Linked DNA regions of Homo sapiens. Changing the gene in region 2 together with the main gene of any one other region gives a genetic interaction. Each region holds a gene or a part of one and is shown on either strand. Other genes may lie near its edges.

Evidence for each region. A genetic interaction does not mean that the proteins touch.
Region 1: changes in ASCC3 (region 2) and EIF3H together harm fitness less than expected from each alone (positive genetic interaction), as found in Homo sapiens cells (one large-scale study listed by BioGRID).

The regions. Positions count from the first base shown.
Region 1 is NC_000008.11:116,728,324-116,732,855, forward strand, and holds part of EIF3H (eukaryotic translation initiation factor 3 subunit H), read right to left. Parts: intron 1-4,532.
Region 2 is NC_000006.12:100,870,340-100,876,102, forward strand, and holds part of ASCC3 (activating signal cointegrator 1 complex subunit 3), read right to left. Parts: intron 1-5,763. UniProt on the Homo sapiens protein: ATPase involved both in DNA repair and rescue of stalled ribosomes. 3'-5' DNA helicase involved in repair of alkylated DNA: promotes DNA unwinding to generate single-stranded substrate needed for ALKBH3, enabling ALKBH3 to process alkylated N3-methylcytosine (3mC) within double-stranded regions.

The sequences.
Region 1 (4,532 bases), on a different chromosome or scaffold from region 2:
AGAGAAATTAAGTAAATGGCTAAAGGTCACACATCTAGGAAGTAGTAGAGCCAAGATTTAAACCTAGTTTAAACCTAGTTTTAGGTTTAAAAGTAGGTTTTTAAACCTAGTTTTTAAACCTGGGAGATGATTTTCATATTAGTAACTAAATTGATAGTTAAAATAACCAGGTAGTAATAGACAACAGATATGCAGTAAAAACTGTGTTATGAATAGACCCAAAAAGACTACACCAGTAAGATACAGAACTCCAAAGGAGAGCAAGCAGTCAGCAGGGAAAAGAGCTCAAAATGGAGTAACACCAACTAATAAGATTGGCAGACCTTCAATACTACGAAATGAAAGTGCACAACCTACACATTCCTGTATGAAAGACCTCTCCACTTCTTGAAAGGCACAAAAATGGACTTGATGAGTCATACAAGTATGGGTATGAGTTCCAGCTCCAGCATTTACTAGCTGTGACCTTGAGAAAGCTATTTAATCTTCTCAAGCCTTAGATTCTAATTTGCAAAATAGCACTATTTCATAGCATTACTGACACTACTAAAAATGACACAGTATAGAGTTCTCTGCACAGAGTCTGCCACATAGTAAGTGCTCAATAAATGACCAATATTGTTGATATTTGTCAATAACTATTTAATGCTTATTCAACATACCTCTCTGCCAAGAAAAATTATTTCTACACTTAAAAAATAGAACAAATACAGGTGATCAAGACGGGATAAACTAAACTGATAAAGAGTTATTACAAACACAACTACCAATTCACCTAGGTTACCTAGATTCCTTTATACTTACCCCTACTAATGAGATTGCTAAACCACTACTGAAATCAAAGTAAACAAGAGATATTAGAAGATATATGAGCTTAACATAGTTCTTCAGACAAATTCTAGAAGTGATTCCTAAACAGCTGATTCCTACATATGCAAAAGGGAATACTGGTGACTAGGACCAGCACAGTTTCATAAAGAAGCCAGATGAAAATAACCTCATTTCCAGTTATGAAGAAAATAGCAATAAAAAAATTAATATATTTTAAAACAAGTTATTACAGTTCAAACTATATTGAAAACTGTCTTAACTCTAACAAAAGTGAATTCTAAAGGGATCAGTAAGGATAATGTAACCAAACAGCACACCAGGCTTGACATGCTTGCCAAACAGCCAATGCAATTTTATGTAGTATCAATAGAATACAGCGCTCCAAGTAAAAGAAATAATTATCTCGCTCTTTCGACATCACTGAACTGTTATCCTCAGTTCTTTACAATGACCCAAGAGAAAATTTACCAGTAACAGTACCAAACTAAGAAATGAGAAAAGCACAAAAAACAATCAGTATGAGTAAGAATCCACAGAAAAGGGTAATTACAAGAGAGAAAGCTTAAAATCCTGTGATGAGAACCAGTAAAATTAATGCAAATCTCTCTCTAGGCAAGGGACACTCAAAAAAAGCACTTTCCAAATACTGAAGAGTTCTTTGGCTGCTTAGAGGATTAGTCTTACTTTGAAGGCAAAACCTAAGAACCACAGGTGACAGTTTCTGGAAAGAAGATTTCAACTCTAAGGATAAATTCTCTCTAGTACTGAAGGCTGTCCAAAAAAGAAAGCATTCAGGAAAGACTCAATCACTAAAATAATTTCCAACTTTAATATTTATGATCTTGTCATTTTAATATAATCTGATAAAGTACTCAGGAAAAAATCACTATTATCAAAACTAAGCTAGCTCATTCTTCATTGTGACATTTTATGATCGTCCTATTTCCTACATACACACTAAAACCTCAGTTCTTTAGTTCAAGAAGTAATGTCATGGAAATGCCTTACAGTAGGATTCATTTGGAGCAGGGGTTCCCAACCCCAAGGCCACGGACAGGTACTGCTCGGGAACTGCTCTGTGGCCTGATAGCAACCTGGCTGCACAGCAGGAGGTAAACTGCCTAAGCTCTGTCTCCTGTCAGGTGACCAGTGGCACTGATTCTCATAGGAGCACAAACCTTTACTGTGAACTGCACATACAAGGGAGCTAGGTTGCATGCTCCTTTGAAGAATCTAATGCCTGACAATCTGAAGTGGAACAGTGTCATCCAGAAACCATCCTCTCACATCCCCGCAACCCCCCACGTGGAAAAACTGTCTTTCACGAAACCAGTCCCTGGTGCCAGAAAGGTTGCAGACACTGATTTAAATGTTAAAAGGAAAGGAAATTCCTGATTAAATATAACTAAATGACATACATACTTCTGCTATTCTACATAGATAACCAAGAATTTGCCATGTATATATATTTCAAAGTTTCATAGATTCGAAGTATCTTTTAATAGAGACAGAATCCATGTTGTGCTCATTGTTTCCCCTCGTGAATGTTCCCATAAAAATGAAAGGATGATTTACTCACCACATCTTCAACACCTAACACAGATACTGGCACATAAAAGATACTCAAAATATATTTTGCTGAAGGAATGAATGGCAAACACTTATCACTTATGATATGTCAAGCACTCCACCGTCTTACGTGCAAGGACTCATTTAATCCTTACAACCACCCTGTGAAGTCAGTTATATTATTTTCCCATTTTACATAAGGAAACAAAGATAAGCTGACAGGGAATTTAGCCAGGGAAGTGAGATCTGACTTCTGAGTCCAAAGCACTTCTAATTACTTCACAATAAATGAGTGATACCAAACTGAGTGCACCAAATATGTTGATAACAGCAAGGCTGAAAAAGACACATGGAAAGCTTAACCATTCTTCAAAACAAAAACACTCTCCTGTTATATTTTGCTTATATGTATCACAAATGACCCCACATTTGTGATACATATACACTCAGGAGCCCTATTTACTCATTCCCAGCTGAGCAAAATCACCTAAAGAGCTTTTTTTAGATAAATGAAGAGGGGTCCTCATTCTGGATACACATTAGAGCCATCTGGGGAGCTTTAAAGTATACTAATGCGTGAGCACACTCCTGAAATTCAGCTAACTGATACCGGCTGGGTTCCTATACTGGGTTTGGTAGGTGGTGTCTGTTTTTAGTTCTCCAACTTACTCTAACATCCTATTTAGTTCTAATTTCTAATGAAGTTGTATGGCCTAGCTTTCCTTTGTTTTTGTTTTGTTGTAACTCCTCAGGTGACTACAATACACTGCTGGTCAAACCCCAATTTCCTTTCCTCTGTTTTAAGACTTCGTGGGTTGCTGAAAAGTGAAGGCACTGAGAAATACAGACCCAAAAGTGAACATGTTGTTTATAAAAGCATAAATATCACCCTAATAAGAGGAATTCAAGCCCTAGTTGGAACAATCTCTACAGCATATAAACAAGAGGGAAGGTAATACCAGCAACCCATCTTGAAACATTCATGTTTTCTGCAGCACAGTAAGACTTACACCTTAGCATCTGACCCCGTTATCTAAGACTGTTAAGAACCGATGCTGACTAGATTTGTTTACCCTATAAATTAGTGGGTAAATGAGGATTCTTCCATGAATTATGCCTCAAGGGACAGAAGCAAACTTGCCAGTAGAAACCCAACTTAGCAAATTCTTCTACACCTTCTGAAACTTTGTCATGTTCTGGGTGTAAATGCTTAAACTACTCTATGTGCCCTAAACAGTAAGTATTGTTCTCTGATTAGGTCAGTTGTCTCTCAAACTGTTTCCCAGATTTCTGAAGTTTACACAGTCTCAAGTTGGGCAGATCTTCAAGGAATCCCAACCTGCAAGATAGTAAACAGATGTCCTGTCTGCTGAAATTACCCTGCAGGGAACAGTTTTCTACTATTGTTCATTATTCAGTGCAAACTATTTGAAAAAGCAAAGCAGACTATACGCCATCTCTAATGAACACAATGCTACTTTTTAAAGTGTCTGGCTTTAAAAAAAAAAAATTAAAACCTATCTTTGCCCAAAAATCTAAAAGCAAGAACGGATTTAACTTCTATGACAAGTATTCTCTGTATTATAGGGTAAAATATAAATACCAATCTAAAATAGCCAAATAAATAACATTATAAGTCAATAAATCTAAAATTTAGAAGAGTTAAGGATGGCAGGTAAAATCTCTCATCCTTCCTAAAGGGAAAGATTTAACAGAATCTCTAAGACCTCCCTATCAAAATCATATCAAAGACTCAGTTCCATGACAGGGAACAGTTCAAATTTGACCAAAATAAATATTAAAGCTTTCTGATGAACTAGAATAATTTCCTATCAAACATAATGTCTGCATAGACCAGTAACTACAGAAAGATTTGAAATCTTTCTGCATAGAATCACTAGGCTTCTGTTATTTTGACTTCTTTCATTCCCTCATTCATTCATTCATTCATTCATTCACTTAGATATTTACTGAGTGACTTTTCAGATCAGTCACCTCTGCCAGGCCCTGGGAATATGAAACTAAATCAAACACATAGGTCTTACTTTCATGGGGCTCATATTTTTAGAACAGCAAGTCTCAAACACACTGTTTCTCTTTATTCTCACACAACACTGCTGACACCAGATGTG
Region 2 (5,763 bases):
GGTGACAGAGTGAGAGTCCGTCTCAAAAAAAAAAAAAAATTAGGTTTGGCAAGCGCAGTCTCTGCCATACATTCATTCCTTTTTTTAAAAATGACACTTTAGAAGTGTAAAACCCATTCTGGGGCTCAGGGTGACCAAATCTGTTTACTGATCCCTGATAGAGGTCACATTCTTTGAGCAAAATATTTATTACAAATCAAAAACAAAAAAATGAGGTATTAAAAACAAACATGATTGCACTGCAAATCAGTAAAGAACTGGTATGAGGACAGCTGGGGAAAAAACAGTTGGACTCTCTACATCACATTGGAGAATTTTAAACAGAGAAGTCAAATGATCCAACTTACAAATAAACTTCTAAGTTAGCTGACTTCAGATTTCAACTACCTGTTGGGAGTGAATTCAGGAGAGCATGGAAATAAGATGATTCAGGGAATCACATCTGGATTTTTCTAACACTAGATAACATACTTCCTGGAGCATTTGGAAGAAAAAAATGAAAGCAAGAGTCAGTGGACAGCACAGAGCAGAGATTCTCAAACTTTATTATATATTGAAACTACCTGCAGGGCTTCTTGAAAAACAAACTGGCTGAGCCCTACCACCTTACTCTCTTCACCCCAATATTCCAATTCAGCAGATCAGATGGCACTGAGATGAGGTTTGAAAATTTACATTTCCAACAACTTTGCAGATGATGCAGTAGGTCAAGGATCGTAGTTGAGAACCACTGTCTTAGAGATGATGTCTTTTATTCTTTTTTTTTTTTCTTTTGAGACGGAGTCTCACTTTGTTGACAAGGCTGGAGTGCAGTGGCGTGATCTCGGCTCACTGCAACCTCCACCTCCCAGATTCAAGCAATTCTCCTGCCTCAGCCTCCCGAGTAGCTGGGATTACAGGTACGCACCACCACGCCCGGCTAATTTTGGTATTTTTAGCAGAGATGGGGCTTCCCCATGTTGGTCAGCCTGGCTTCAAACTCCTGACCTCGTGATCCGCCCGCCTCGGCCTCCTAAAGTGCTGGGATTACAGGTGTGAGCCACCATGCCTAGCCAATGTCTTTTATTCTTAAATCACCGCTTAATTTTGTCTCAAGCCAATAATGGCCAAGGAAGAAATTCATCTATTAAGAAATCCATGGACTGGGGGCCAGGCACAGTGGTTCACACCTGTAATCCCAGCACTTTGGGGCCAAGCCAGGTGGACTGCTTGAGGCCAGGAGTTTGAGACCAGCCTGGGCAACACAGTGAGACCCCCAACTCTACAAAAAAATTTTAAAAAGCCAGGCAAGTGGCATGCACCTGTAGTCCCAGCTACTCAGGAGGCTGAGGTGGGAGAATTGCTTGAGCCCGGAAGGTCAAGGCTGCAGTAAGCCATGATCATGCCACTGCAGTCAGCCTGGGTGACAGAAATCCATGGCCTGAATTCAGTGCATAGCCTGGCTCCTACCAGCCTTTCTCAATGGGGGTCTGTAAGAGAATACAACTCTTTTATTGAAAGTGACTTGACTTTTTCTCAATTCTCCCAAGAATTGTACACAGTACACAGTATGTTTGTACACAGTACACAGTATGTATGTACACTGTACATGTCATCCATAGAGAGGAAGTAAGGTATACAATGGATGCCAAAGCATTGGGGTTTTTATTTTCTACCCACACTGAGACACTGCAAAAATGTATTCAAGATAACTAAATTTAGTCAAGTCTTTAAAGAAAGGCTCTGATAGTAAACTAAACATACTCTGCCTCAGAACCTAGAACCTACCTTTTACCACACAAGTTAGTGCTTTCAAAATGTAGCATCAGAACAAGAAACATGATGTATTAATACTGTGCCTCTGGCATGGTCTTACAAATTAATGGGGTACTTGGGACCACTACTTTCACCATTTTTATATACATCACAGTAATGTCCTGAATCCTCTGTGCCTTTCTTTTTTAAAAAGTAGAAAGCAAGACTTCATTTTTATTCTAACTCACAAACCTAGCAAATCCTAACAAGATAATACACTCAACCTCTAAGAAGAGATCTAATATTAGGATTCGGTAATGAGGTCACATTGTTACAAACTACAGTAACTGAAAACTTTAAAGCTCCCTGAGACCTGAGTAGAAAAAAAAAAGGGTCGGGGGGGGATCATGGCAGACGGGAGGCAGGACTAGACTGCAGCTCCCACTCTGACAGAGCACCGTGTGGAGTCTTGCATTGTAAACTCTTGCTCCAGAATGACGGCAGGAATAAATCAGGAAAGCCAAGAGAACCCACAGACCTTCTGAAGGAAGCAGATTGCTCCTGCAGGGCCCAGGATATACCCCAAATACTGTGCTGGTATCCATGACTGAGAGACCCACAGACGGTTCACATCACAGGTCTCTGTGTAGACAACCCCCAGTACCAGCCCAAAGCCTGGTAGACCTGCTGAGTGGCTAGATCCAGAAGAGAGACAACAATCACTATAGCTTGGCTCTCAGGAAGCCATATCCCTAGGAAAAGGGGGAGAATATCATCAAGGGAACACCCCGTGGGACAAAATAATCTGAACAACAGCCTTGAGTCCTAGACCTTCTCTCTGACAGACCCTACCCAAATGAGAAGAACCAGAAACCTAACACTGGTAATATGACAAAACATGGTTCTTTAACACCCCCCCCAAAAAATCACAGTAGCTCACCAACAATGGATCCAAACCAAGAAGAAATCCCTGATTTACCTGAAAAAGAATTCAGAAGGCCAGTTATTAAGCTAATCAAGGAAGCACCAGAGAAAGGCAAAGCCCAATTTATGGAAATTTAAATAAACAATAAATGAAGGGAGAAATCTTCAGTGACATAGACAACATAAATAAGAAACGAAACTTCAGGAAACAATGGACACATTTATAGAAATGCAAAATCCTCTGGAAAGTCTCAGCAATAAAATTGAACAAGCAGATCTTCAGAGCTCGAAGACAAGGTTTTCTAATTAACCCAATCCAACAAAGGCAAATAAAAAAGAATAAGAAAATATGAACAAAGCCCCCAAGAGGTCTGGGATTATGTTAAATTACCAAACCTAAGAATAGTCAGCGTTCCTGAGGAAGAAGAGAAATCTAAACGTTTGGAAAACATATTTGGGGGAATAATCTAAGAAAACTCTCCCAGCCTTGCTAGAGACCTAGACAATCAAATACAAGACATTCAAAGAACACCTGGGAAATTCATCACAAAAAGATCATCGCCTAGGCACACTGTCATCAGGTTATCTAAAGTTAATATGAAGGAAGGAATCTTATGAGCTGTGAGGCAGAAGCACCAGGTAACCTTATAAAGGAAAACCTATCACATTAACAGCAGATTTCTCAGCAGAAACTCTACAAGCTAGAAGGGATTGGAGCCCTATCTTCAGCCTCCTTAAACAAAACAATTATCAGCCAAGAATTTAGTATCCAGCAAAACTAAGCTTCATAAATGAAGGGATGGTACAGTCTTTTTAGGCAAACAAATGCTCAGAACACGCCACTACCAAGCCAGCACTACAAAAACTGCTAAAAAGAGCTCTAAATCTTGAAACAAATCCTGGAAACACATCAAGTAAAGCTCCCTGAGATCTTATCAAAATAATCAGCATGAAATTATGCTTGTTAAGGGAATGAAGCAAAGCACATTACCAGATTTGCTATTTTTATTTGATGTGTTTTCTTCCCCAGGTTGAATGAGCAACACTAAAAATGTAACAGCTCATTAGTTCATTGTTACCTATAAATCATTTATACACAAATATTTGAGTTTCTCCTATCTACTAGGATCTGGGCTAGGCACTGGATGTTAATGAAGTTTACAGTTCTTCAAAACTCATTGCATTTTAGGCTGGGCGCGGTGGCTCACACCTGTAATCCCAGCACTTTGGGAGGCCGAGGCAGGCGGATCACGAGGTCAAGAGATTGAGACCATCCTGGCCAACATGGTGAAACCCCGTCTCTACTAAAAATACAGAAATTAGTTGGGCGTGGTGGTGCGCACCTGTAGTCCCAGCTACTAAGGAGGCTGAGGCAGGAGAATCACTTCAACCCGGGAGGCAGAGGTTGCAGTGAGCAGAGATCGCACCATTGCATTCCAGCCTGGCAACAGAGCAAGACTCTGTCTCAAAAAAAAAAAAAAAAAAAAAACAACTCATTGTATTTTGTACCAGGAAAAAGATTCCCTTTAAGTTTTATTTGAAATGTATAAAGGTCAAATTGAGAAAACAAATTTTAAATATTATGTTATTCATTCACTAAGCAAATATTTATAGATCACCCACCATATATTAGATATTTTATGAGGCTCTAGAGATTAAAAAAAGAAAAACATTTTGATATGATTGCACTTGCCCTCAATGATGAGCTTACAGTATGGTTGGGAAGAAAGAAAAATAGTTGCAATAATTATGCAGCTATAACTGTAGGAAGACAGGGAAGGAGCATCTAAAGGGGTGGGAGGGCACTAGATATAAAGAAGGAAGCTGAGCTTGAGCTGAGACTTAAAGGACCTAGACAAGGTTATTACAAGAGGTAAACTATGAGGGGGAAAGCCAAAATAACAGACTTAATTACTTTTAAAACCCCTACAGAATGTGCATTTGGAAACTGATGAAATAAGACCTAAAAATGTAAGCAGAGACCAAACAACATGTCTCAAATTAGGCACTTTTCATTCTGATAATCAGAATCACTGAAAAAATACTAACATGTTACAGAAAAATTACTCAGATTTACATGTGGTGAACTGTCAAGGTGGGGTCAAACAGGACACAGGCAAACCAGTTGGGAAGTTATTTCAATAAACCAACTGAAAGACAGAGAGGATAGAATTAAGCCAGGGAAACACATAAAAGGATGGATTTAGGAGATCAGTATACTTGGAAGACAGAATCAATGTGGAATAGGATTTAAAGAAGGAGAAAGGAGCAGGACACTCAAATTTCTGGCTTAGGAAATGTTGAAGAGTGGAGGAGTCTATATGTATAGAGGGCATCAGGAAGAGGAATGATAATTCTGTTTTGGAAAACTTTAATTATGGGCTATCAAGTGGGGCATATGGTTTTGGATTTCCTATCAGAGGTCTGGGCTGGAAATCCAGAATTTCATGTTATCACTTCATCATAGTTAAAACCATGGATGAACATAATATTGTCTAAGTCAAATATACATAAGCCCATGGACCCTCTTCCTAAGAAAACAGACATACATACATATAAACAACATTTTGTACTCCATTTCAAAAGCTGCATGAATGCCCATTCATGCACTCCACCCCTAAAGGCCTCTTGGAAGTAGACAGTAGAGAGTTAAGAACAGAGTTCTAAGAAAGTGATCCACAAATCAGTTGTCATATGGAAAAGTGATATGACAACAGAAAAGAAAGTTTCAAATGACATGATACAGTCCACTGTACTCAGCCACTCTGCGGTCCTAGATGACTAGCACACCTAGTTTCCAAAAATGGTAGAAGCTAAATCTCAGTGAGTTGAAGGATAAACGCAAAGGGAGAAAATAGGGAAAAAACAAACAAACAAACAAAAAACCCTACAAATGGGTACATGCTATTCTTTCAAGAAAATGAGAAAGAAAAGGAGAAAAAGTAGGAAATACTGAAATAATGTGGTTTAAGAGTTTCTGAAAATAAAGGATAGAGTTGATCATGATTTTATCATAATCAGGGGAGAGCAAAGAGAGAAGGAAAAGTTGAGCAATCAGGAGAAAGACTGTGACTGATGGAGTAGGGTCTCTGAGAATGCAGGCGA